7 linked regions of the Homo sapiens genome follow. The protein of the gene in region 1 purifies or fractionates together with the protein of each later gene. This does not show direct contact. Each region holds a gene or a part of one and is shown in the gene's direction. Other genes may lie near its edges. The genes, in order: OPA3, GLUD1, ETFA, MTCH2, MRPS6, CS and STARD7.

Region 1 (3,500 bases):
ACAAAACACCCTCCCGCACAGCCAACTCTGCGTGAATTACTCTTTGTCTTGCAGTTCTCCTCTCTTGATGAATCAGCTCTGTCTAGGCAGCGGGCAAGGTGAACTCCTTGGGCGGTTACACACCATTCATCCCTCCATCCATTCATTATTTCCTTTAGCTGGTATTTTGTGAGCCTCTGCCCTGTGCCAGGCCTTGTGCTGGCAATGCTGGCGAAACAGCAGGGACCAAACCAGCACCAATCTGTGCCCTCAAGGAATTCCTAGTCCTGCGGGGGACAGACGTATCCCCCAACAGTGGGCAGAGCTGAGATGGGGGAGCCCACTGGGCACCTGACATGGCATGGGGTTCAGGGAGGGCTTCCTGGCAGAGGAGACATCTGAATTGGGACCTGAAGGGTGAGGACAACACCAGGACAAGGCGTAAGGAAAGCACTGGGGCAGAGGGAGGAGCACACACAAAGCCCACATGATTAAGGGAGTGCACTTTTTTTCCCCCTCTGTAAGTTTGGATGCTTAAAGTTTGCTTTCCAGGGCCCGGAATTCTTGGTTGTTCGGTGTTTGGTGGGGTCTTTGTTGGGGCTGCAGCTCTTAGAATGGGAAAGTATTAGATTTCACAGTTACCAAAGTGCTTTCCTGTTAGCCATCTCATTTGACCCCCACAACTGTTTTGTCCCCATGTCCGGAAAGAGGAATGACTTCCTCTGGTTTATAGAAGGGAAAATGGAGGTGTTGAGGGCAGCAGTTAATTGCTCAGGTCATACGCAGAGATTTGTGCCAGAGGCGAAACTTTGGACACTGAATTCCTAGACCCAGTTTGTTTCCTGTCTCTGCCTGTCTTCCAAACACTGTGACATTCTTAGCGTTGTGGTTTAGAAAATGGCTTCTGGAGCTGGGCGCAGTGGCTCATGCCTGTAATCCCAGCACTTTGGAAGGCGGAGGTGGGTGGATCATGAGGTCAGGAGTTCAAGACCAGCCTGGCCAACATGGTGAAACCCTGTCTCTACTCAAAATACAAAATTAGGCAGGTGTGGTGGCGCACACCTGTAGTCCCAGCTACTTGGGAGGCTGAGGCAGGAGAATTGCTTGAACCTGGGAGGCAGAGGTTGCAGTGAGCCAAGATCACACCACTGCACTCCAGCTTGGGCGACAGAGCGAGACTCTGTCTCAATAAATAAATAAATAAATAAATAAATAAATAAATAGGCTTCTGTGCTGGGCGCGGTGCCTCCCACCTATAATCCCAGCACTTTGGGAGGCCGAGGCAGGCAGATCACCTGAGGTCGGGAATTAGAGACCAGCCTCACCAACATGGAGAAACCCCGTCTCTACTAAAAATACAAAATTAGCCAGACGTGGTGGCGCATGCCTGTAATCCCAGCTACTCGGGAGGCTGAGGCAGGAGAATCGCTTGAACCCAGGAGGTGGAGGTTGCAGTGAGCCGAGATCACGCCATTGCACTCCAGCCTGGGCAACAAGAGTGAAACTCTGTCTCAAAAAAAAAAAAAAAAAGGCCGGGTGCAGTGGCTCGCGCCTGTAATCCCAACACTTTGGGAGGCCAAGGTGGGCAGATCACGAAGTCAAATTTCAAGACCTGCCTGACCAACATGGTGAAACCCCTTCTCTACTAAAAATACAAAAATTAGCTGGGCGTGGTGGCACGCGCCTGTAATCCCAGCTACTCGGGAGGCTGAGGCAGAAGAATCACTTGAACATGGGAGGCGGAGGTTGCAGTGAGCCGAGATCGTGCCACTACACTCCAGCCTGGGTGACAGAGCGAGACTCCATATCAAAAAAAAAAAAAGAAAAAAAAAAAGAAAGAAAATGGCTTCTGGAGTCAGACTGACATAGGTTTGAATCCCTACCCAGACTGGTGACTTTGGGTACGTCATTTAGCCCCTCTTAGCTTCAATTTCCGATTCTGTACATTGGGTATTATGTAATGGTCACATTAACTGGGCTTGTACTTTGTGCCACGGCTTGTCTGCAGCACCTTCCAGCCTCTGGCACTGGGTCCTCACCAGTTATGATGAGGTAGATACTATTATTATTATTATTATTATTTTGTGTATATACTATGTATGCATTATGCTGTAAATAATATTTATTGTGTTGTGGTGAGGATTAAGTAAATGGATATAAAATGTTAAGTCAGTGCCTGGCATAGGGTCATGGCTGTCACGTAGATGTTATAGATACAACAGGCAGGAAAAAGCAAAACATCTTGCCCTCAGGTACCTTACATTCTTGTGGAGGAAGCCAGACAATAAATGAAATAAATAGTTGGCTGGGCCCAGTGGCTCATGCCTGTAATCCCAGCACTTTGGGAGGCTGAGGCTGGTGCATCACTTGAGGTCAGGAGTTTGAGACCAGCCTGGGCAACATGGTGAAACCCCATCTCTACTAAAAATACAAAAATTAGCCAGGTGTGGTGGCAGGCACCTGTAATCCCAGTTACTTAGGAGGCTTAGGCAGGAGAATCACTTGAACCCAAGAGGCAGAGGTTGCAGTGAGCCGAGATTGCACCACTGCACTCCAGCCTGGGTGACAGAGTGAGATTCCATCTCAAAAAATAGTTAAAAGATGAAGTATATTAGATAGCAATAATTGCTCTAGGAAAAAAATCAGGGTTGTAGAACAAGGAGTATTTAAAGGAAGGCTATAAGCCTAGATAGGATTGTCAGGGAGAACTCACTGAAAATATGCCAAGGAGGGAGGGAACGAGCAGCATTGCCATCTGGGGGAAGAAACGTTCCAGCCCAGAGGATCCCGCATGCACACAGGACCTGAGGCATGAGCGTGCCTGGCACACAGGACAGAGGAAACTGATGACGGGAAAGGGGGACAGTTTGTATGGGGCCTGTGGGTCACTGCAAATGCCTTGGCTTTACTCTGAGTGGAACAGGACTTACTGGAGGGTTCTGTGCAGCAGAAGGACAATATCAGAGTTCTGTTTTATTTTATTTTATTTTATTTTTTGAGACAGAGTCGCACTCCGACACCCAGGCTGGAGTGCAATGGTGTGATCTTGGCTCACCACAACTTCCGCCTCCCGGGTTCAAGTGATTCTCCTGCCTCAGCCTCCCGAGTAGCTGGGATTACAGGCATGCGCCACCACGCCCGGCTAATTTTGTATTTTAAGTAGAGATGGGGTTTCTCCATGTTGATCAGGCTGGTCTCTAACTCCCAACGTCAGGAGATCTGCCCGCCTTGGCCTCCCAAAGTGCTGGGATTACAGGCATGAGCCACCACGCCTGGCCCGGGAGCAGAGTTTTTAAGGATAACTTGGTGGGTGAGGGGAAGCCAGTGAGCCAGGAGTGCTGATTGGTCAGAGATGAAATCATAGGAATTCAGAGATGTCTTGTGCTCAGTTAGTTCCTGGGTGGCGGTGGGGGAGGGGGAGGGCGGGCACAAGATCAGATGAGCCAATTTTTTGATCTGGGTGGGGCCAGCTGATCCATCAAGTGCAGAGTCTGCAGAATATCTCAAGCACTGATCTTAGG
Region 2 (3,500 bases), on another chromosome or scaffold:
CACCCTTTTACCAACCTTCAGCTTTCTGTATCTCATTTTCCCTCAAGAACAACCTTATCCCTGAGTTTTCTAAATTAAAATTCTTGAGGTTGAAGCAAAGCAACAATCTAGCAATAATCTCTAAGGGAAACAGATGGTTATAAGACTTGGTGGCTGATGTGTACTTTTTCCAAGTAAATATTTAATAATACACACTGTTTTTGTGCTTTTCTTTTCCCAGTTACTACATGTACCTGAGGCCGTTAGATTTGTCTGTGTTAAGGATTTGAAAGGGTAAGCTAAAGGATCTGAAGGGAAGTTTAAGTGAGGCCTTAAAAATATTTCCAGCAAAGGGGCATAGTGTGAGAATATGCGACTGATTTGAGAAGACTGGTTCAAAAGTTCTGGTGGGTTTGGAAATATTATCAAAGATTGTTCTATTAACTTTCCCAGAGTAAATTATCTGTATTTCATTTGCTATGGTTCTGCCTGAGACCAGTCTACCTTTTTAGAAGGAAGTTTATTGTTTTAAAGTCAGTTTGGAGGGAAAGTACAGATTGATAATAGCAATTTATTGATGGTAGGAGTCAATTAACTTTCTCTTCCAGTCTGCCCCCCCCCAGTTGTCTTGATATTAAAACTATTAAAATTCCCTATCACTGATGCTACTATCATAAAATTTTCTAAAATTATCATAATTTACATATAGTTGATGGACCGTAGATGGAGTTCTCTCATACATTGACCCTAAGTCTTTTAATTACAAATATTAGTACCCAAAAAAGTGTACCCTATATTAATCCAGTAACTAGTTTTTAAAAGTCAAAATGCCAGAAGGAAACAGTGGAATCTTGATGACATAATGCAAGGGAAGACCGGAGTCAATGCAGTGTTAAAGACGCCCTCAGCCTCTGGGATGTCATTGTTTAGCGCTTAAGGGAAGACTATAGAAAGCACTGATACTGATTTAAAATGAGATATTTCTCTGCCTTCACTGGGGGAAAAAATGTTTCTGACTTATTTTGCTGTGCTCAATTGACAACCATCAAAACTTAGGTAACTTTTAATAAACTCACAGTTTCTAATATTTTTAAGTGGCTGTGTGTCTGCATCTGCTGCCACAGATAAAATATAACCTTTGTAGGTGAATTTAATTTAGGACTTTTCTGAAAGTTCAGTCAGAGGATAGGTAATTTGTGTGTCTTTTAAAAGCACTTAGCCCCGAGGTTGTTGTTTTTAATACATCTTATTTAAATACGGAAATGTGTTGCCCTTATGCCTTTTTATTTCATGGAAGCCAAATGCGTCTTTTCTCCCAAAGTATACTAGAAAATGAAGACGCTTGGTAATGGTAGTGATCTGTACATCAGATTTCAGTCTTTCTGTCACTTGCGTGTATGAATCCATTTAGCAAGTTTGCTTTTGGCAGTAAAGCCCCACGTGCAGGAAGACAAACAGCTGCTCACTCATTATCCAAAGTATACTTTGTAAGAATTAGGGCATCAAAAATTGGATCCTAAGCACCAATATATATTAAAGTTCAGTACAACTTGTAGTGTTTAAGTACAAGAAATAAAAATTGAGCCTGAACTTTTGGCATATAGTGGGAAGAAATTAGGTTTACCGCTGTTAATAATTCAGAGTGCTTAGGAAAATCGGTTTTTATTTACTTATGTTAAAAATACTAAGGGTTCTGTAACCATTAAAAACTAAAATACTAACCTGTAGATGTTGAAAAAATCCTAGACACTAGTCTCTGCCACGTGACTGTTCTTCTTTTCTATTTATTTTACCCAATAATTAGGCTTTTACAATGTAAGTAATAAAGAGAAAAATCTCTAGTATCACTTTAGAGCACATTGATTCATAAATAGCCCATAAATTTTGTACTCAGCAACCCATAAAATACACATGCATGATTCACATAATCAAATAGTAACGAAAGTTACAAAATGAAAAGTGAAGCAGCTCTACCCCAAGTCCTTCCCCCAATATAACCATGAACAGTCTTAAATCTAATGCCGCTGTCTAAAACTGACTAGTTATTCAAATGAATCAATATTTTCCCCTTTCCAGAGGCAGAAATTAATACAGATTCAAGTGTTCACTATCAAGTCGGAATTGTTAATATGTGAAATACTACTGTTAAAGGCAGGAAAGGCTTTATTAAGGACAAGAAGACAAACTAGGAGAAGGAGCTACTCAAGACCTTCCGATTATCTTTACAAAAAGGCAACTACACCTAGAAGATTCTGCAGCCACACACATTCTGCCTTCACTTGAGGTCAACTGCCTTCACCAAGGTCAGATATTAGCAAAGGCTAACATTTATTCAGCTCTGTGTGTGCCAGGCATTTTATTAAGAACTTTTCATGCATCATCAGTTCTATGCCTTATAGCAACAATGCATGTAAGAACTTTTCATGTATCATTGCTTTTATGCCTCATGCAATACACTGTTGTCCCTGATTTCCAAATGTGGCTACTAAGGTTGAGGAGTGAAGTGTCCTTTGGCAGGGTGACACAGCTAGTACGTAGTGGAGTTGAGGTTCAGATTCTGGGCATCTGATTCCAGCACCCACCTTAATCATTGTTGTCTGGGATTTATTTATGCAAAAAGTTACAAATTGTATCTTAGGCTTTTAATTGTAAGCGCTGATTGAGAACCACTTCATGCCATTGACACAATGCTTCCTAATACTTTGGATCATAGATACCTTTGAAATTTCTGTTAAAAGCTATTAGAAGACCTACCTTCTTCCTAGAAAAATACATATTCAAACAGCTTTGCATATAAAACTCAGCATAGATGATATCTCTAGAGGTCCATTTATTCTAATTGCTAAGGAAATGAAATAACCTTTTTCCCCTACACCCAACTCCGAAGACCTGAAATAACATTTTAAACAGTTTTCCATCAAAAGAGGTTTGAAGACTTTGGTGTTTAAGAGATTAATGTGTTAGCCAGAACAACTCATTTCTCTACCAGTGTGTAGTCCATTTATCTTTAAAGATTTTCTATTGAATAATTTTGAAATTACTTTCTTAGTTTTCTTCATTAAAAACTAAGAAAATGCTTTGTTTATTATGAATTGCTATTTCTCTTGATTATTATTCTTGGAGAAAGTCTATCAGACGTAATTCTTCTGATTTGCTTCTAGGCTAGAGGAAAATGTGAAAGATGACAAATGAAAATTTCAAAGGTTGTCAGTAGTATGACTTCTTTTATCGTTTGTCATTATCACAAATATATCAACATAGGACTTTTAAAAGATATTTTGTACATATTGGGCCTTAGTAGGATTTTGCATGAATTTTTTTTTTCTTTTATGCCAAGAGAGAAAGAGCAAAGAAATAACCAAGGGTGATGTACTCGTATTGAAGGTTTACCAAATAAGGACTGCTTTTATTATGAACTATAGTCTATATTCTAAGTAAATCAATTTTTCTATTATGTGTTTTTTGTTCCTGCAGGCAAGATCTCTGAACTTTATGCAGAGGGTTCTTTTAAAAAAACAAAG
Region 3 (3,500 bases), on another chromosome or scaffold:
AAAGAACATATTCTGGTGGGTTTATGATTAGTTATGTGGATTTCTTTACCCAATTCCTGCTAACAACTGTAGGATCTTACATAGTTGATACAGCCACAATGTGTGATGTGTGATGGCTAAGCTATCTATTTGTATGTCTGTATTAGCCACAGTATATGATGGCTAAGCTATCTTTTTGGTTTCCCTGTTTTTGGATATATAGGAATTTGTGATTTGTTGTTTGTTTTGCTGTGATTTAAAATAATTATTGTAATATTACTTTAAAAAGACTTTGATACTTTATACTACTTTGAGAAAAATCAAAATAGAAATCGTCTTCTGTACTCAGTTACAATCCTAACCTGTCATGTTCTAATTTTAAAGAAAACAACCAGTACCTGTATGAAGAGATCGTTTAATAGAGTTCGGTTTTATACCATTTTATTCAGCTACTTGTCATAAACAGCAAGTTATTCTTCTGTATAATGCCAGCCGTTTTGCCAGTAAAAACAAGATAGTTTCAATGGGAAAATTCTGCCCCATTTTCTATCCCATGCTGCTATGCAGCTACATTGCAATTAACTGAGTTTCTTAATTGGAAATTCTCTTAAAGTTTGAGAAGCTAAATGCAGCTGCATCCATAATAAAGGGCCTCTGTAGTACAAATGGTATGCCGGTGAACACTTGGTTTAGCAGAGAATGTATTCTTGCACTGCATCCTTTCTTCAGTGAATATTGTTGCAAGCTAACAGTTCATATGAGGGTGGCACAAGGCACAGCCTTTTAATCCTACTCATCAGTGAATCAATGAATCAGTTTGGAGGTAAACAAGGAGACAGAAGACGATAGTATGACTGATATGACTTAGCTAAAGTGGAAACCAGCCATGAGGTAATAAAGATACTTAAAAAGGGGAAATCTAATTGCCTTCTGAATATAGAAAATCTGAATCATCAAAAAGCTTTCTCAGAACCCCATTCTAATTCCAAACAGGAAAAATGAAGAATTAAAATAGGAAATATTTTGCTTTGTCATAGATAAATATGTGTATGTGGGCAGGAACTCAGTGGTTGACAATGGGATGTTACTAGAGAACTTCATTTTCACCATTTCCAGGACATTGAACTTACACTTGGATTGAACCAAAAGTAAAAAGCACAATTTATAACAAAATTTGAATAAAGAGCCATGTTGATTTTGGTTTGTCAATTAGCACTTTTCTTTTTCAAGGCAGGAATTTTTGTTGAAATGCTTGGTAGTTGGACAGTGTAAGGTCAGTCAGTAGTAAGATCTATTGGCATTAGATTTTCTTTGTTAAGGAATGTATTTTAATATTTTAATTCTTTGTTTGTTTGAGATGGAGTTTCACTCTTTCGCCCAGTCTGGAGTGAAGTGGTGTGATCTTGGCTCACTGTAACCTCCGCCTCCTGGGTTCAAGCCATTCTCTTGCCTCAGTCTCCCAAGTAGCTGGGATTACAGGTGCCCGCCACCATGCCTAGCTAATTTTTGTATTTTTAGTAGAGATGGGGTTTCACCATGTTGGCCAGGCTGGTCTTGAACTCTTGACTCCGGTGATCTGCCTGCCTCAGCCTCTCAGAGTGCTGGGATTACAGGCTTGAGCCACTGCGCCCGGCCGGAATATATTTTAATTCTTAACTGGCCCTTTTGCTAATAAGAATAATTTTTACAGTTGGCCATTAAGATTTTATGATCTGTTGATATTTATAGTGGTGGCTTTATTTGTATATTTCTGATAGATGGATAATTAGGAACTTATCTTTTAATCATAGGTGGCACAAGATCTCTGTAAAGTAGCAGGCATAGCAAAAGTTCTGGTGGCTCAGCATGATGTGTACAAAGGCCTACTTCCAGGTGAGGTTTTCCAGTAGAAAAAAATGTAGTGTCTAAATTACGCTTGAATATATGAATATGAAAGTATTTCAAAATATTTTTTTATCAAATGTGTTTAATTCTCAGAGGAACTGACACCATTGATTTTGGCAACTCAGAAGCAGTTCAATTACACACACATCTGTGCTGGAGCATCTGCCTTCGGAAAGGTGAGAAGGTTGAGAATGTGGAATCTGATATCACTGCTTGAAAGGGTTAGATTTCATTGTGCTGAAAGTATGCAACAGACTGTTTATGTAGCCAATCTGGATTTATCTGAATTGATGTGGTAGTTTTGCTAAAATTTATTCTTTCAAGATTTTGTCATAATTTTCCGTTAAAACTACCATTTCCAGGTTTTCAAATTATGTTGTGGAGAAAACTCTAATTAGGCTATTATTTTAAAATTTTCTGCATGTAAAAGTAATGCTGAATTCTGCTTGCATGTGAGAGAGAGAGTGAACGAGCAAGAGTCATTTCTATTAGTAGCCCATTTTAAGAGATGGTTTATTTGGATGGCTGATGGATATCTAGAAAAGCCAAATTTTATCTACGTAGGGAATTTGGAAAGGGCTTGTGGTGGTTGAAGACATCCTTAAGGTAAAGAAAGCTGTAATCTGATCATGTGCATTGTGATGTGTCTGAAGAATGAGTGTGTTATAAGATGGATAGCAGTCTACATAAAGTTAAAAATGGAGGGAGGAGTGTAATGGGAGCTTAAGACAAGGAATTCGTCAGTGGATTTTTCTTGCTCTCTCTCTGTGGCCGTGGGTGTTATCTTAGCTCTCTTTTCTTTTGTTCCATTCTTAATAAGGTGTCATTTTTAGTCTTTATTTTTACTTTCTTTTTTTTGAGATGGAGTCTCACTGTCGCCCAGGTTGGAGTGCAGTGGCGCCATCTCGGCTCACTGCAGGCTCCGCCCCCCGGGGTTCACGCCATTCTCCTGCCTCAGCCTCCCGAGTAGCTGGGACTACAGGCGCCCGCCAGCTCGCCCGGCTAATTTTTTGTATTTTTAGTAGAGACGGGGTTTCACTGTGTTAGCCAGGATGGTCTTGATCTCCTGACCTCGTGATCCGCCCGCCTCGGCCCCCCAAAGTACTGGGATTACAGGCGTGAGCCACCGCGCCTGGCCTACTTTTTTTTTTTTTTTTTTTCGAGATGGAGTCTTACTTTCCTCGCCCAGGCTGGAGTGCAGCAGCACAATCTCAGCTCACTGCAACCTCTACCTCCTGGGTTCAAGCCATTCTCCTGCCTCAGCCTCCCGTGTGTAGCTGGGATTATAGGTGCGTGCCACCACACCTGGCTAATTTTTGTATGTTTAGTAGAGACAGGGTTTCGCCGTGTTGACCAGGCTGGTCTCGAACTCCTGACCTCAGGTGATCTGCCTGCTTCAGCCTAGCTCTGTTGCCCAGACTGGAGTGCAGTGGCACGATTGTAGCTCAACATACCCTCCAACTTGTGGGCTCAAACGATCCTCCTATCCTAGCCTTCTGAGTAGCTAGGACTACAGGTACATGCCACCATGCCCAGCTAATTTTCAAATTTTTTGTATCGATGTAGTCTCCCTATGTTGTGCGGGCTTGTCTTAAACTCCTGGCCTCAAGTCATCCTCTCATTTCAGCCTCCCAAAG
Region 4 (3,500 bases), on another chromosome or scaffold:
TTTTTTAAAAAGGGGGGGAGGAAAAGTATAATTGATACCATTAGAAGATTCCTAATTTTTTTCTTTGTATGCCCTATGCAGCAGCAGCCTCAATTTGTATTTATTTATTAATTATTATTATTATTTTTTTTTTTTTTGAGATGGAGTCTTGCTATGTTGCCCAGGCTGGAGTGCAGTAGCATGATCTCGGCTCACTGCGACCTCCACCTCCTGGATTCAAGTGATTGTCCCGCCTCAGCCTCCTGAGTAGCTGGGATTACAGGCATTCGCCACCATGCCCAGCTAATATTTTTGTATTTTTGGTAGAGACAGGGTTTCACCATGTTGGCCAGGCTGGTCTCGAACTCCTGACCTCAAGTGATCCACCCGCCTCAGTCTCCCAAAGTGCTGGGATTACAGGCATGAACCACCATGCCAGGCCAATTACTATTATTATTTATAGTTTTTGTTTTTGTTTTTGTTTTTGTTTTTTGAGACAGAATCTCACTCTGTCACCCAGGCTGGAGTGCAGTGGTGCAGTCTCGCTCCATTGCAACAGACACCTCCTGGATTCAAGCAGTTCTCATGCCTCAGCTTCCCAAGAAGTTGTGATTACAGGCATGTGCCACCATGCTGGGCTAATTTTTGCATTTTTAGTAGAGATGGGGTCTTGCTATGTTGGCCAGACTGGTCCTGAACTCCTGACCTCCGGTGATCTGCCTACCTCGGACTTCCAAAGCGCTGGAATTAAAGGCGTGAGCCACTGCACCTGGCCTATTTTTATTTATTTTTAATTTTTTTAGAGATAGGGCTGCAATGTGGTGGTGAAGTCCTAGCTCACTGCAGCCTTGAACTCCTGAGCTCAAGGGATCCTCCCATCTCAGCTTCCCAAGTAGTTGGGAGTACATGTGCATGCCACCATGCCTGGCTAATTATTTTTTGTGAAGACACAGGGTCTCACTTTGTTGCCCAGGCTGTTCTTAAATTTCTAGGCTCAAGTGATTCTCCTTCCTCAGCCTCTTAAAGTGCTGGGATTACAGGGGTGAGCCACCATGCCCAGCCAACATATTGTTATTTTAAATCTTTATCTTTTCTATGAAAGTGACAAAAGGTATATCAGGGATTAAATGACAATCCATACCTGTTTTTCCTAGGGGCTTTATGGAGAAAGTGAGTTTTAAAGAACCAGAATTAGGATATTTAGTCTATGGAAAGTTTGATGACCTTTTCTCTGTATTGGTTAGAAGGGCAGGTTTTGGTATAGTGGTAGACTCCATTGATTTCCAAATTCTAGATGCCAAGTGACTCTACTGAGTTGGGCAAAATTTTGCCTTTTTTTTTTTTTTTTTGAGATGGAGTCTCACTCTGTTGCCCAGGCTATAGTGCAGTGGTGCAATCTCGACTCACTGCAACCTCCACCTCCCAGGTTCAAGCAATTCTCCTGCCTCAGCCTCCTGAGTAGCTGGGATTACAGGTGCCCACCAGCATGCCTGGCTAATTTTTTGTATTTTTTTGTTGTTGTTATTGTTGAGACAGAGTCTTGCTCTGTTGCTCAGGCTGGATTGTGGTGGCGCGATCTTGGTTCACTGCATCCTCCACCTCCTGGGTTCAAGTACTTCTCCTGCCTCAGCCTCCAGAGTAGCTGGGATTATAGGCACTTGCCACCACCCCCGGCTAATTTCTGTATTTCTAGTAGAGACAGTGTTTCACCATGTTGGCCAGGCTGGTCTCGAACTCCTGACCTCAAGTGGTCCACCCTCCTCGACCTCCTAAAGTGCTGGGATTACAGGCGTGAGCCACTGCACCCAGCCTTGCCTTTTTTGTTTAATTCAAAATTCTTTTCCCATATGGTACCTGACATATCATTAAACATGTTACTGTTTTCAAATAAGATCAGATAGCTATGTGGAGTTTTGAACATTTTACATTGTTTGTTTTCTGGTTTTGTTTGTTTCATGTTACTCCTGGCAAGCTGTGATGTTTTCTGATACGTAGAGCAACTGCCATTTTTTAGCACAGTGTAAACTTGAAGGATGAATTAAATGTATTATTATTATTTACAGTTTTTTCAAGATGAAGTGATTATACCTAAGTAGGAACATATATATCTACTGTTTATATCCGTTTTCATGTTTAGTATCTTTGTGAACACCAGTTAGTTTTTAAATCTCCTTTCCCTGCTCTTTTTTTTTTTTTTTTTTTTTAAAAAAAGACTGGTTCTTACTCTGTCACCCAGGCTGGAGTGCAGTAGTGCAATCTTGGCTCACTGCAACTTCCGCCTCCTGGGTTGAAGCAATTCACATGCCTTAGCCTCCCAAGTAGCCGGGATTACAGGCATGCGCCACCATGCCAGCTCATGTTTTTGTATTTTCAGTAGAGATGGGGTTTCACCATGTTGGCCAGGCTGGTCTTGAACTCCTGACCTCAAATGATCCACCTGCCTTGGCCTCCCAAAGTGCTGGAATTACAGGTGTGAGCCACCGTGCCCGGCCACCTTTCCCTGCTCTTTAATCATGTAAATGCTGTGTTCTGGAGTTTCATTTGTCCACAAAGGAAAAGTCTAAATGTTTTAGAAATTAAGGTTGAAGTTTATGTTTATTTATTTATTTGAAACCTAAATATAGGGGAGGAATTCTCTTTTGGATGCTTGATCGTTCCCCTGCTTCAATATGATTTGTTTCATTGAACTAAAATGATCTCTCAGGGAATCTTCTGTGCAGCAGAATATTTTGACAAGGTTTATCAACGTCTCAAGAGAATGGTTAATATTAACATGAATAGCTCCATGTTTTTTTCTATTTTAGTCTTGCTGGTGGATGCCCTCCTTACTCCCCAATATATACGTCTTGGATAGACTGTTGGTGCATGCTACAAAAAGAGGTATTTCTTTTTCTCTGTCTCTCTCATTTTATTTTGTTTTATTTTTATTTATTTGTTTTCTTAAATATTGTCTCTGGAATCCCAAGTTAACTCTTGTAGCTCACTTTAGCTAGAGTTAGTCTAGTCTGCCAGTTAATGTACACTTTACAGTGTTCTGTGTTTTCACTTTGGCATAATAGTAAAATGTGATGTTTAGAAATCATGAGCAGGAGTAATGAAGAAGAAAGAATCCCTAGATGAGACCTAGAAGCCATTTGAGTGCCCACATTCAACTTACAAATACGATCCAGGTAGATTATTATCCTGGTAAAATGATGGCCTTGATTTTAGACTCTTTTTTTCCCCCAAACTCACCTTTCATAACCACTTATTTGTCACAGTGGTATTGACAGAGCTGGTCTTATACTTCTAGAGTCTTGTTAGTGGATGATTTTGCCTAGATACCAATTTAGGGTTTGTTATTACTATGAGGTGTATAATCTGCAACAAAAAATTATTTATTATCTAGGCAAAGCTTTATTGGAAAATAAAATAATGGGCTGGGTGCAGTGGCTCACGCTTATAATTCTAGCACTTCGAGAGGTCTAGGTGGGCAAATTGCTTGAGCCTAGGAGTTTGAGACCAGTTGAGGCAACATGATG
Region 5 (3,500 bases), on another chromosome or scaffold:
TAAGGACCTGCCAGCTTCCCTCAGCCCATCACAATATAGAACCAGGGGTTGGCCAGATAGTAAATAGTTTAGGCTCTGGGGCCATGTGGTCTCTTGTAATTACAGATCTACCTTTAGCACAGAAGTAGCCATAGACACTATGCAGATGTGTGAGTTGGCTGTGTTCCAGTTCAACTTTATTTGCAAATACAGGTAGCAAGCCAGATTTGGCCCAAGAGCCCTGGTTTGCCAACCCTGCTTTATGGTGAGGTAAGGTCTATGGGGCGTTATTTTTGCTCCTCCTTCCACCTTTCGTTTTATACTTCTGGGTGTTTTGAAATTAAAGTGAGATGAATGTGGCCATTCCAGTAGTCTACAGTTTGACCTTGACATACTGAAGTCAAACAATTTTTTTTTTTATATTTTCCTAAGTTACATTCTTGTTAGGTAGCCTTTCCCCTTTTTGAGACAGATGTAAGAAGAAAATGTTTTTTACTTTATAAGCTCTTACTTCAGAAGAGGGTAATGAGTTTTATACTGTAAACACTTCAGTTGGAACTTAAAAGATATTGAGATATATTCCTTTTTAATCAGGCAAAACTGGAATTGAAATTTATTTGGGTAGCTAATCAGAAAACTAATCAATCAAATGTTTTTTTCCTTTTTTTTTTTGAGTGCAAAGCTGAGACCCGACTCTTTATTTGGATGGGCTGTTCCTTTACCTTATCATACGTTAATTGATGTAATGCCAGGTCAAGAAACAGCATTTTCAGTTAAATGAAATACTGTGCTGCTGTTAATAATGAGTCCTCTGCAGATGTATGGCGATGTCTTTGTGAACTATAATGAAATGTGAGAAGAATGTAGTCTTCATATGATTAGAACTGTCTAGGAATGTGTTTGATACAATCATAAGGATAAATTGCCTTAGACTTTTTACCTACTGTTAATGGGAAGAGATTTTGGCCTGAATTTTTATTGTCTTCAGGAAATTTCTGTTTTATCTTAAGGTTGGTTAAATATATAAACAACGATTCAGTAGGAATTTTTAAAATCCCTAATGGACTTCAATATGAAAAGAAAGTAAAGAATGTTTTTTTCTAAGCCTTAAGCCAATACTTAGCACATTTCATACCATTTTAGCAGCACTTGTCAGAAAGAAAATTTTAAAAATATAGTGGATTTTGTTTGGTTGCCAGAATGCACACTTAAACTTGTTCTGCAATTTTCTCTTCATTTGATCCCCAAATGAACCTCTGGAAGGTAGCCTATTCTTAAGTTTCCTCCTGCACTTTAAAATCACCCTGCTTGCACCTCTTCACGTAGGTCTTTGAGGAGATGTGCACCTTGTCTTTGCCAAGGTGTGCCTCTGGCTTCCTCCCCGATGGTTTCCACAGCTTTCCTTCTCCTTGCAGCAGGCGTTTCCACTTAATAGCTGCCCTGTCAGCATCTCTCTAGAGATCCCATCCCAAATCTGTAAACCTTCTTGGCTTTTTTTTTTTATGAAGATAAAATATGTAACAATAAGACACTAGACCATATAGTAGTTATCCAGTAAATCATAGCTGTCATCGTTGTTGCTATTTTAGAAATCCTACATTTTATCGTCTTGCATGGTCCGCTCCTTTTTGACTACCAACTTGCCCATGTGTTTTCTCCTAAAACACGTTGCTCAAGTTGCTTGTCCCTGGAGCCCTGGCATTTTCTCCTCCTCACCATTGTTCTCATACCTCTACCATGGGAACCTTGGCAGCCTGCTTTCTGGCCCCATCTTGCCAAATGCCCATGTAGCTACCACACCGCGGCTTTTTCTTGATCTCTGTCCTCTACCCCATTGTCATTCTGGACAAGGCAGTCTCCCGATTTTCCTTGTCCTATTTGATGATACGTTTTATATTTGCTTCTCTGACTTTGAGTCCTCTTGTTAGCCCCTAAATGTTTGTACTCCCCAAGGTTCTGCTGGTGATCTCCTTTCCTCTCCCCCTCCACCCTTTCTATTGATCTCACCTCCTTCTCAGGCTTCAGAGAGCCGTCTGTGCAGGTGACTATGAAATGTGTATTTCTCATCCACCTGCTTTGAGCTTAAGATTTACATCTGGAGAGGTCAACCTAGGGGAGCCATGGCATCTGAGACTCAGCGTGTCTTAAACCAGATTCATCTCTTACTGTCCTCACCAGCTTCTCCAGCTCTCCTTTTAGCTGTAGTGACAGTTGCACTCTCTCAGCCACCAGATTGTGGTGCCCTTCTTCGCCACATCTTGCCTTCATTCTCCACATTGCATTCGTTGCAGTTTTCAGGCTTATCCTTATAAAGTATCTTTTCTTCCAAAAATTGCTTGTGTATACATATGCATAGAGAGATATCTGGAAAGAAATTCACCAGAAAGTTTAATTCACCATCCAGTCTATCTCTGGGTAATGGGATTCTATATTGTTCAAGCTTTTTTTTTTTTTTTTTTAAATAACAGGCCTTGATTACTCATGGACTTGTGCCCAGTGTATACCCGTCTATCTCCTCAGCACTCCCTTGCCCTGAACCCCATCACTGGGGCTCAGTTGCTGGTTCATTCATTCTTTGTACCTCCGGTCATCATTTTCCGGGTGCCTTTCAAGTAAACTTTCCTTAGTGAAACCCTTCTTCCAGCTGAATGTTTCTTCCTTTCGTGAGCCCTCTGGTCTCTATGCTATTTCCTGTATTCTGCCCTCTGCTCTCCATACATGTGTATTTTGTGTTCTGTCCTTTATTAGATTGTAAGCTCCATGAGGGCAGAGTTTGGGTCTGATTACCCATCCTTTCCCCCTTTTGGTTACAGTCTCCCAGTTTTTCTTTGGGAGACAACACCTTTTCCCCCTGGCTACAGTTTTGGTGGGATGGGCAGTTCAGGTGTCCTGCCAACGAGATACTCTTCTCCTGGAATTTGAATTTTGAGTCATGGGATACAAGGACTGACAGTGATTGGCACTGATTCAGCCTGGCCGAGGTGCTCTGAAGAAGCCACTCATTAGTTCCTGCCTCCCAGATCCCTGGAGCTGCCCTGGTCCCTGAACTCTCCGAAGCCTGGTTCTTCAGATATTCCTCGTATCTGTGAGCTATCTCATATCCTTACAATAAATTCTCTCTCTCTTTTATTTTAAGTTAACCAAAACCAGCTTCTGTTGCTTTTACCCAGCGATTCCTACCAGTAGAGCTGTTATGATTGGAACTGAGCAGACTTAATCATTCTAGCTCTTATATTAATTCTGATGCTTTTTTTTCTTTTCTTTAAAAACACAAACAAAAACAGCCAGAGACTGCTGCTACTTTGAAACGTACGATAGAGGCCCTGATGGACAGAGGAGCAATAGTGAGGGACTTGGAAAACCTGGGTGAACGAGCGCTTCCTTATAGGATCTCTGCCCACAGTCAGCAGCACAACAGAGGCGGGTAAGTTTCTTCATGAAGTCTTGAAAGACGTTTTTGATAGGCTCAGTAAAGAGTACTGTTCAATTACTATTAGAAGTTCTTAAAATTTCACATTGAG
Region 6 (2,566 bases), on another chromosome or scaffold:
ATATATAACAACCCATCATATAACTAACCATCAACCCAAATAGCCCCAATTCATGGAGGACAGACGATATCCCTGCCTAATTCTTCTTTGCTGATAATTCCTTTTTTTTTCTCCATCTTGCTCCTCTTCTGTCAGTTGATTTATGAAGACTCTATGGATCTAATCGCAAAGCTACCTTGTGTTGCAGCAAAGATCTACCGAAATCTCTACAGAGAAGGCAGCGGTATTGGGGCCATTGACTCTAACCTGGACTGGTCTCACAATTTCACCAACATGTTAGGCTATACTGATCATCAGTTCACTGAGCTCACGCGCCTGTACCTCACCATCCACAGGTAAGCTAGACCCAGCAACCACAGCCACTAGGTGCCTCAATTGGTGGGAAATTTTTTTAAAAGCTCCTTTATGTTCTCATCTTCTGAGAACAGATGATAGGCAGCAAGAAGACAGAAACGTGGCATAAAGGATGATCCAAGGCAAGAAAGGGGTCTAGTAAGCAAGGTCAGGAGGCCTAAAGAAATTACTGTAACCATGCTAAGAACAAGATGGTGCTTCTGGCTGGGAAAAGGTACTAGCTGCTCACATTAGATGGTCCTTCAGCTTTCCAGGAGCTCGCTCTTTGGGGCCATTGCTATTAAAGCTAGGTTGGAGTCATGGAGCAGAGCATACAGGCATCATCAACCAGTAACCTCTCCAGCTCTGTGGATGAGTGAACAAAAGCTGGTAATGAGATTAGGATGCTTTTTTTTTTTTTTTTTTTTAGATGGAGTCTTGCTCTGTCGCCAGGTTGGAGTGCAATGGCGCAATCTTGGCTCACTGCAACCTGCACCTCCAGGTTCAAGTGATTCTGCTGCCTCAGCCTCCCAAGTAGCTAGGACTACAGATGTGTGCCACCATGCCCAGCTAATTTTTGTATTTTTAGCAGAGACGGGGTTTCACCATGTTGGCCAGGATGGTCTTGATCTCTTGACCTCATGATCCACCCGCCTTGGCCTCCCAAAGTGCTAGGATTATAGGCGTGAGCCACTGTGCCTGGCCAAGATTAGGATGTCTTTTACAAGAGTTTAGGTATAACTGACTGGCTATAGGCTGGCATGAGCCCATAACTAGGCTAGTAAGTGGCAAATAAGAGAACAGCAAAGTTTCCATAATCTGCCCCTTCTTTCTTCCCTTGGCTCTCCCTTCTTACTTCCCCACAGTGACCATGAGGGTGGCAATGTAAGTGCCCATACCAGCCATTTGGTGGGCAGTGCCCTTTCCGACCCTTACCTGTCCTTTGCAGCAGCCATGAACGGGCTGGCAGGGCCTCTCCATGGACTGGCAAATCAGGTAAGACTATTCTTTTTATTTTCCTGCTACATGTTTTCCTTACCCCATGCTTTGTTTCTGATCTTGGCATTCTCTTCTGGCATATGTATTAACATTCCCTTTTTCCCCAAACCTTACCCATAGGAAGTGCTTGTCTGGCTAACACAGCTGCAGAAGGAAGTTGGCAAAGATGTGTCAGATGAGAAGTTACGAGACTACATCTGGAACACACTCAACTCAGGACGGGTAAGCAGAGATGCTTAACGACTAGGAAAGAAACCAAGACACAAGTTCTGCAATTTGGAAGAATTAAGAAAAGAATGAAAGAGGTCCCTAAATTAGAGATTTTTTTTTCTTCATTTATCTACCTTGAAGAATTTAGAAAAGAATTTCTAGGTGGGCACAATGGCATGCACCTGTAGTCCCACCTACTTGGGAGGCTGAGGCAAGAGGATTGCTTGAGGCCAGGAGTTTAAGGCTGCAGTGTGCTAAGATCACTCCTGTGAATAGCCACTACACTCCAGCCAGGACAACACAGCAAGACCCCATTCTCTAAAAAACAGTTTTAAATAGGTTGAGTGTGGTGGCTCACGCTTATAATCTTAGCACTTTGGGAGTCCAGGGTGGATGGATCTCGTGAGCCCAGGAGTTTGAGACCAGCCTGAGCAACACAGACCCTATCTTTTTTTTTTTTTTTTTTTTAAAGACAGTCTTGCTCTTGTTGCCCAGGCTAGAATGCAGTGGCGCAACCTCAGTTCACTGCAACCTCCGCCTCTCGGGTTCAAGTGATTCTCCTGCCTCATCCTCTCGAGTAGCTGGGATTACAGGCATGCGCCACCATGCCCGGCTAATTTTGTATTTTTAGTAGAGACGGGGTTTCTCCGAGTTGGTCAGTTGGTCAGGCTAGTCTAGGACTCCCAACCTCAGGTGATCTGCCCACCTCAGCCTCCCAAAGTGCTGGGATTACAGGCATGAGCCACCGCACACGGCCAGACCCCATCTTTACCAAAAAAAAAAAAAAAAAAGCCAGATGTGTTGGTGTGCACCTGTGGTCCCAGCTACTCTGGAGGCTGAAGTGGGAGAATTGCCTGAGCCTGGGAGGTCGAGGCTGCCGTGAGATGTGATCATGCCACTGCACTCCAGCCTGGGTGACAGAGTGAGATCCTGTCTCGAAAAATAAAAGAATTTCTACTGAGAATACTATCTTTTTTCCTCACTCTTTACAGGTTGTTCCAGGCTATGGCCATGCAGTACTAAG
Region 7 (3,500 bases), on another chromosome or scaffold:
CTGCAGCAGGAATAATCTACTTAGAGCAGTGTTGCTGGCATTCTTTCCCCCAGATTGGTTGTACTCCTGGACTCCCAGCTCCCTCAAGATCCTGTGCCTTTGTGTTATCTTCAAGATGCAAAGCCCCTTCTAGAAGTCTCTAACCTCACTTAAATTAGGAGCTGTGCTTTAACTGCTTGTGGGCGGGAGGGGGGCTGCATTCACCTATTTGGGTTCTTTCCAAATAGAAAGGGATTTCAGGCAGTCAAAATGACAAATATTCCCCTATATAAATATTTTCATCCAAGTCCAAAGCTTAAAATTCAGCAAATTCAATTTTAGAACTAATAGGACTTCAAGAAATAACGTCCTCACTTTAAAGGTAAAATAAAATAAGATCACACAGCTGGTCAGCTGTAGAGCCAGGACTAGAACACAAATCTTTAGACTTACCATTATTTTGAATTGCTCTAAACTTTTAATCTTGGATTGACACTATACCTTTGAATTTTTGGCTTTTGCAGCAATATATTAATGCAATATATATATATTTTTGAGACAGTTTCACTCTCACCCAGGCTGGAGTGCAGTGGCACGATCTCAACTCACTGCAACCTCCATCTCCTGGGTTCAACAGATTCTTGTGCCTCAGCCTGCTGAGTAGCTGGGATTACAGGCGCAGGCCACCATGCCTGGCTAATTTTTTTTTGTAGTGCTGGGATTACAGGTGTGAGCCGTTGCACCTGGCCAATTTTTTTTTTTTTTTAAGAGTCTTACTCTGTTGCCAGGCTGGAGTGCAGTGGCATGATTTTGGCTCGCTACAGTCCCGACCTCCAGGGCTCAGGTGATTCTCCCACCTCTGCCTCCTCAGTAGCTGGGACTACAGCTGCATGCCACTACGCCCAGCTATTTGTTGTGTAATTTTTTTTTTTTTTTTTTAGAGGTGGAGTTTTGCATGTTGCCCAGGCTGGTCTTGAAGTCCTGGGCTCAAGTGATCTGCTCACCTTAGCCTCCCAAAATGCTGAGGATTATAGGCGTGAACCACTGCCCCAGGCCTTAATGCAATCTTTTAATAAAAATTTGGATTACTGAGGCCTATTTTCATTTTATTATTTCTTGATTTACTAAATTTATTCATGTAATGTATGTAATGTTTACCAGGACATGTAATGTTTACCAGGACATGCTAGGAGCTGGAACTACAAATATGAAAAAGACTGATTCTGGGCTATTAAGGAATTTATAGTTTAGTAAGGAAAGCAGATATAAAGATAGATTAATTATAGTGTAATATGCCTGTGTAAAGGAATAAAAATCAGTGTGTATGGTTAACTCTGCCTAGCAGTTACCTTTGTGGTTTTTTGAAGCTTGAAGGGTGAAAAGGCATTTCAGACAGTGTAGCAGTAATTTGGGTCTTCTTCAGTCTTGAATTGCAATAGAGTGTATAAGACAGCCAGCCAGCAATTTTTGTTTCTTATCTGTAACCTTTCTTTAAATGTTGCAGGGGGTAGGGTGAGGTGGAGGGCACGGAGAAGCTGGGTATGGTAGCACACGCCTATTGTGCCAGCTACTTGGGAGGCTGAAGTGAAAGGATCTCTTAAGCCCAGGAATTTGAGGCCAGTTTCGGCGACATAGTGAGACTTTGTCTCAAAAAAGAAGAGGTTATGGGAAAAATACAAGCCAAGTTTTAAAAAATTATTATTATAAAATGTTTCAGATATATAAAAAAGGTTTAAATAATAACACGAGCGTTGCAAGTACAGCTATGTTAAGAAATAAGATATTACAAGTATACTTAGGGTTCCTCTGTACCTTTTTCCAGTTGTATTCTTATTTTTCCCCAAGATGTCACCATTATCCCAATTTGTTGTATATAATTCCCTATGTTTTTATACATATGTATATACCCCTGAATGATACATAGTGATACATAGTACAATATATGGTGGTGTTTTTCATGTTTTAAAACTTTTTGCAGCCGGTGAGTCCCGCCTGGAATCCCAGCACTTTGGGAGGCCCAGGCTAGTGGATCACTTGAGGCCAGGAGTTCAACACCAGCCTGGGCAACATGGTGCAACCCCATCTCTACTAAAAATACAGAAAACAAATTAGCTGCATGTGGTGGTGCTTGTCTGTAGTCCCAGCTACTTGGGAAGCTGAAGTGGGAGAATCACCTGAGCTTGGGGAGTTAAGGCTGTAGTGAGCTGTGATTATGCCACTGCACTCTAGCCTGGGCTCAGAACAAACAAAAAAAAACCACACAACTTTTCGCAGTCCTGAACAAAATACTAACAAACTGAACTCAGCAATATATGAAATGGATTATATGCCATGAAAAGTAGGATTTATTTAAGGAACGGCAAGGTCGGTTCTTCATACAAAAATCAATTTATTACACCATATTAATAGAAAAAAGGACAAAAACTGCGTGATCATCTGAATAAACACAAAAAGTATTTGACAAATTCCAGCCTCCTTTTGTGATTAAAAAAGAAAACACTCAGCAGACTGGGAATAGAAGGAAATTTCTTGCAGCTGATAAAAGGCATCTACAAAAAACATAGCTAACAGTGTAGTTAATGGCAAAAGACTTAGTGCTTTTCTCCTAAGATCAGGAACAAGATGAGGATTCTGCTCTCACCATTTCTGTTCAACATTGTACTGGAGGTCATAACCAATGAAATCAGGCAACATAAGGAAATGAAAGTCATTTAGATTGGAAAGAAGAAATAAAACTATCTCTATTTGCAGCTGACATGATCTTATATTTAGAAAATAGTAAGGAATCTACAGAAAGCAATTAGAGCTGATAAATGAGTTCATCAAGTTTGCAGGATACAAGATCAATACACGGAAGTCATGTTTATGTACACTAACAATGAATCTGAAAATAAAATTAACAATTTCATTTACAGTAGCATAAAAGGAATAAATACATACGAATAAATTAACAAGTGTACAACTAAAACTGTAACACTAAAAACAACAAAACATCATTGGAAGAAATTTAAAAAGACATAAGTGAAAGACATCCCGTGTTCATGGATTAGATTAGAACACTTAATATTGCTAAGATGGCAATACCACTTAAAGTGATCTACAAATTCAGTGTAGTCTTTATCAAAATCCTAGGCAGTTCTGCAGAAATTGGCAAGCCACTTCTGATAGTCATATGGAAATGAAAGGAACTCAGAATAGCAAAAACAGTCTTGAAAAAAGAGAACAAAGTTTGGAGGACTCACTGTTCCCAATTTCAAAACTTATTACAAAGCTACAGTAATGACATTGTGGTACTGGCATAAGGATAGACATCTAGATTGTTAGAATAAAATTGAGAGTCTAGAAATAAACCTTTACATTTTTGGTCAGTTTTCAACAAGGATGCCAGGATAGTTCACTGGGGAAGGAATAGGCTTTTCGACAAATGACACTGGGTCACCTGGAGAAGCAGATGCAAAAGAATGAGTTTAGACTCCTACCTCATTATCATACACAAACATTAACTTGAAATGGGGTAAAGA

The links.
Region 2: the proteins of OPA3 (region 1) and GLUD1 purify together in Homo sapiens (co-immunoprecipitation; one large-scale study listed by IntAct). This does not show direct contact.
Region 3: the proteins of OPA3 (region 1) and ETFA purify together in Homo sapiens (co-immunoprecipitation; one large-scale study listed by IntAct). This does not show direct contact.
Region 4: the proteins of OPA3 (region 1) and MTCH2 purify together in Homo sapiens (affinity purification with mass spectrometry; one large-scale study listed by BioGRID and IntAct). This does not show direct contact.
Region 5: the proteins of OPA3 (region 1) and MRPS6 purify together in Homo sapiens (co-immunoprecipitation; one large-scale study listed by IntAct). This does not show direct contact.
Region 6: the proteins of OPA3 (region 1) and CS purify together in Homo sapiens (co-immunoprecipitation; one large-scale study listed by IntAct). This does not show direct contact.
Region 7: the proteins of OPA3 (region 1) and STARD7 purify together in Homo sapiens (affinity purification with mass spectrometry; one large-scale study listed by BioGRID and IntAct). This does not show direct contact.

The regions. Positions count from the first base shown.
Region 1 is NC_000019.10:45,578,303-45,581,802, reverse strand, and holds part of OPA3 (optic atrophy 3 protein), read left to right. Parts: intron 1-3,500. UniProt on the Homo sapiens protein: May play some role in mitochondrial processes.
Region 2 is NC_000010.11:87,088,344-87,091,843, reverse strand, and holds part of GLUD1 (glutamate dehydrogenase 1, mitochondrial isoform a precursor), read left to right. Parts: intron 1-220; exon of another isoform or gene 221-2,282; intron 2,283-3,500. UniProt on the Homo sapiens protein: Mitochondrial glutamate dehydrogenase that catalyzes the conversion of L-glutamate into alpha-ketoglutarate. Plays a key role in glutamine anaplerosis by producing alpha-ketoglutarate, an important intermediate in the tricarboxylic acid cycle.
Region 3 is NC_000015.10:76,290,970-76,294,469, reverse strand, and holds part of ETFA (electron transfer flavoprotein subunit alpha, mitochondrial), read left to right. Parts: intron 1-1,769; coding exon 1,770-1,851; intron 1,852-1,956; coding exon 1,957-2,039; intron 2,040-3,500. UniProt on the Homo sapiens protein: Heterodimeric electron transfer flavoprotein that accepts electrons from several mitochondrial dehydrogenases, including acyl-CoA dehydrogenases, glutaryl-CoA and sarcosine dehydrogenase.
Region 4 is NC_000011.10:47,622,060-47,625,559, reverse strand, and holds part of MTCH2 (mitochondrial carrier homolog 2), read left to right. Parts: intron 1-2,783; coding exon 2,784-2,859; intron 2,860-3,500. UniProt on the Homo sapiens protein: Protein insertase that mediates insertion of transmembrane proteins into the mitochondrial outer membrane. Catalyzes insertion of proteins with alpha-helical transmembrane regions, such as signal-anchored, tail-anchored and multi-pass membrane proteins.
Region 5 is NC_000021.9:34,122,078-34,125,577, forward strand, and holds part of MRPS6 (small ribosomal subunit protein bS6m), read left to right. Parts: intron 1-3,263; coding exon 3,264-3,403; intron 3,404-3,500.
Region 6 is NC_000012.12:56,273,765-56,276,330, reverse strand, and holds part of CS (citrate synthase, mitochondrial precursor), read left to right. Parts: intron 1-135; coding exon 136-335; intron 336-1,199; coding exon 1,200-1,329; intron 1,330-1,452; coding exon 1,453-1,554; intron 1,555-2,534; coding exon 2,535-2,566. UniProt on the Homo sapiens protein: Key enzyme of the Krebs tricarboxylic acid cycle which catalyzes the synthesis of citrate from acetyl coenzyme A and oxaloacetate.
Region 7 is NC_000002.12:96,198,828-96,202,327, reverse strand, and holds part of STARD7 (stAR-related lipid transfer protein 7, mitochondrial isoform 1 precursor), read left to right. Parts: intron 1-3,500. UniProt on the Homo sapiens protein: May play a protective role in mucosal tissues by preventing exaggerated allergic responses.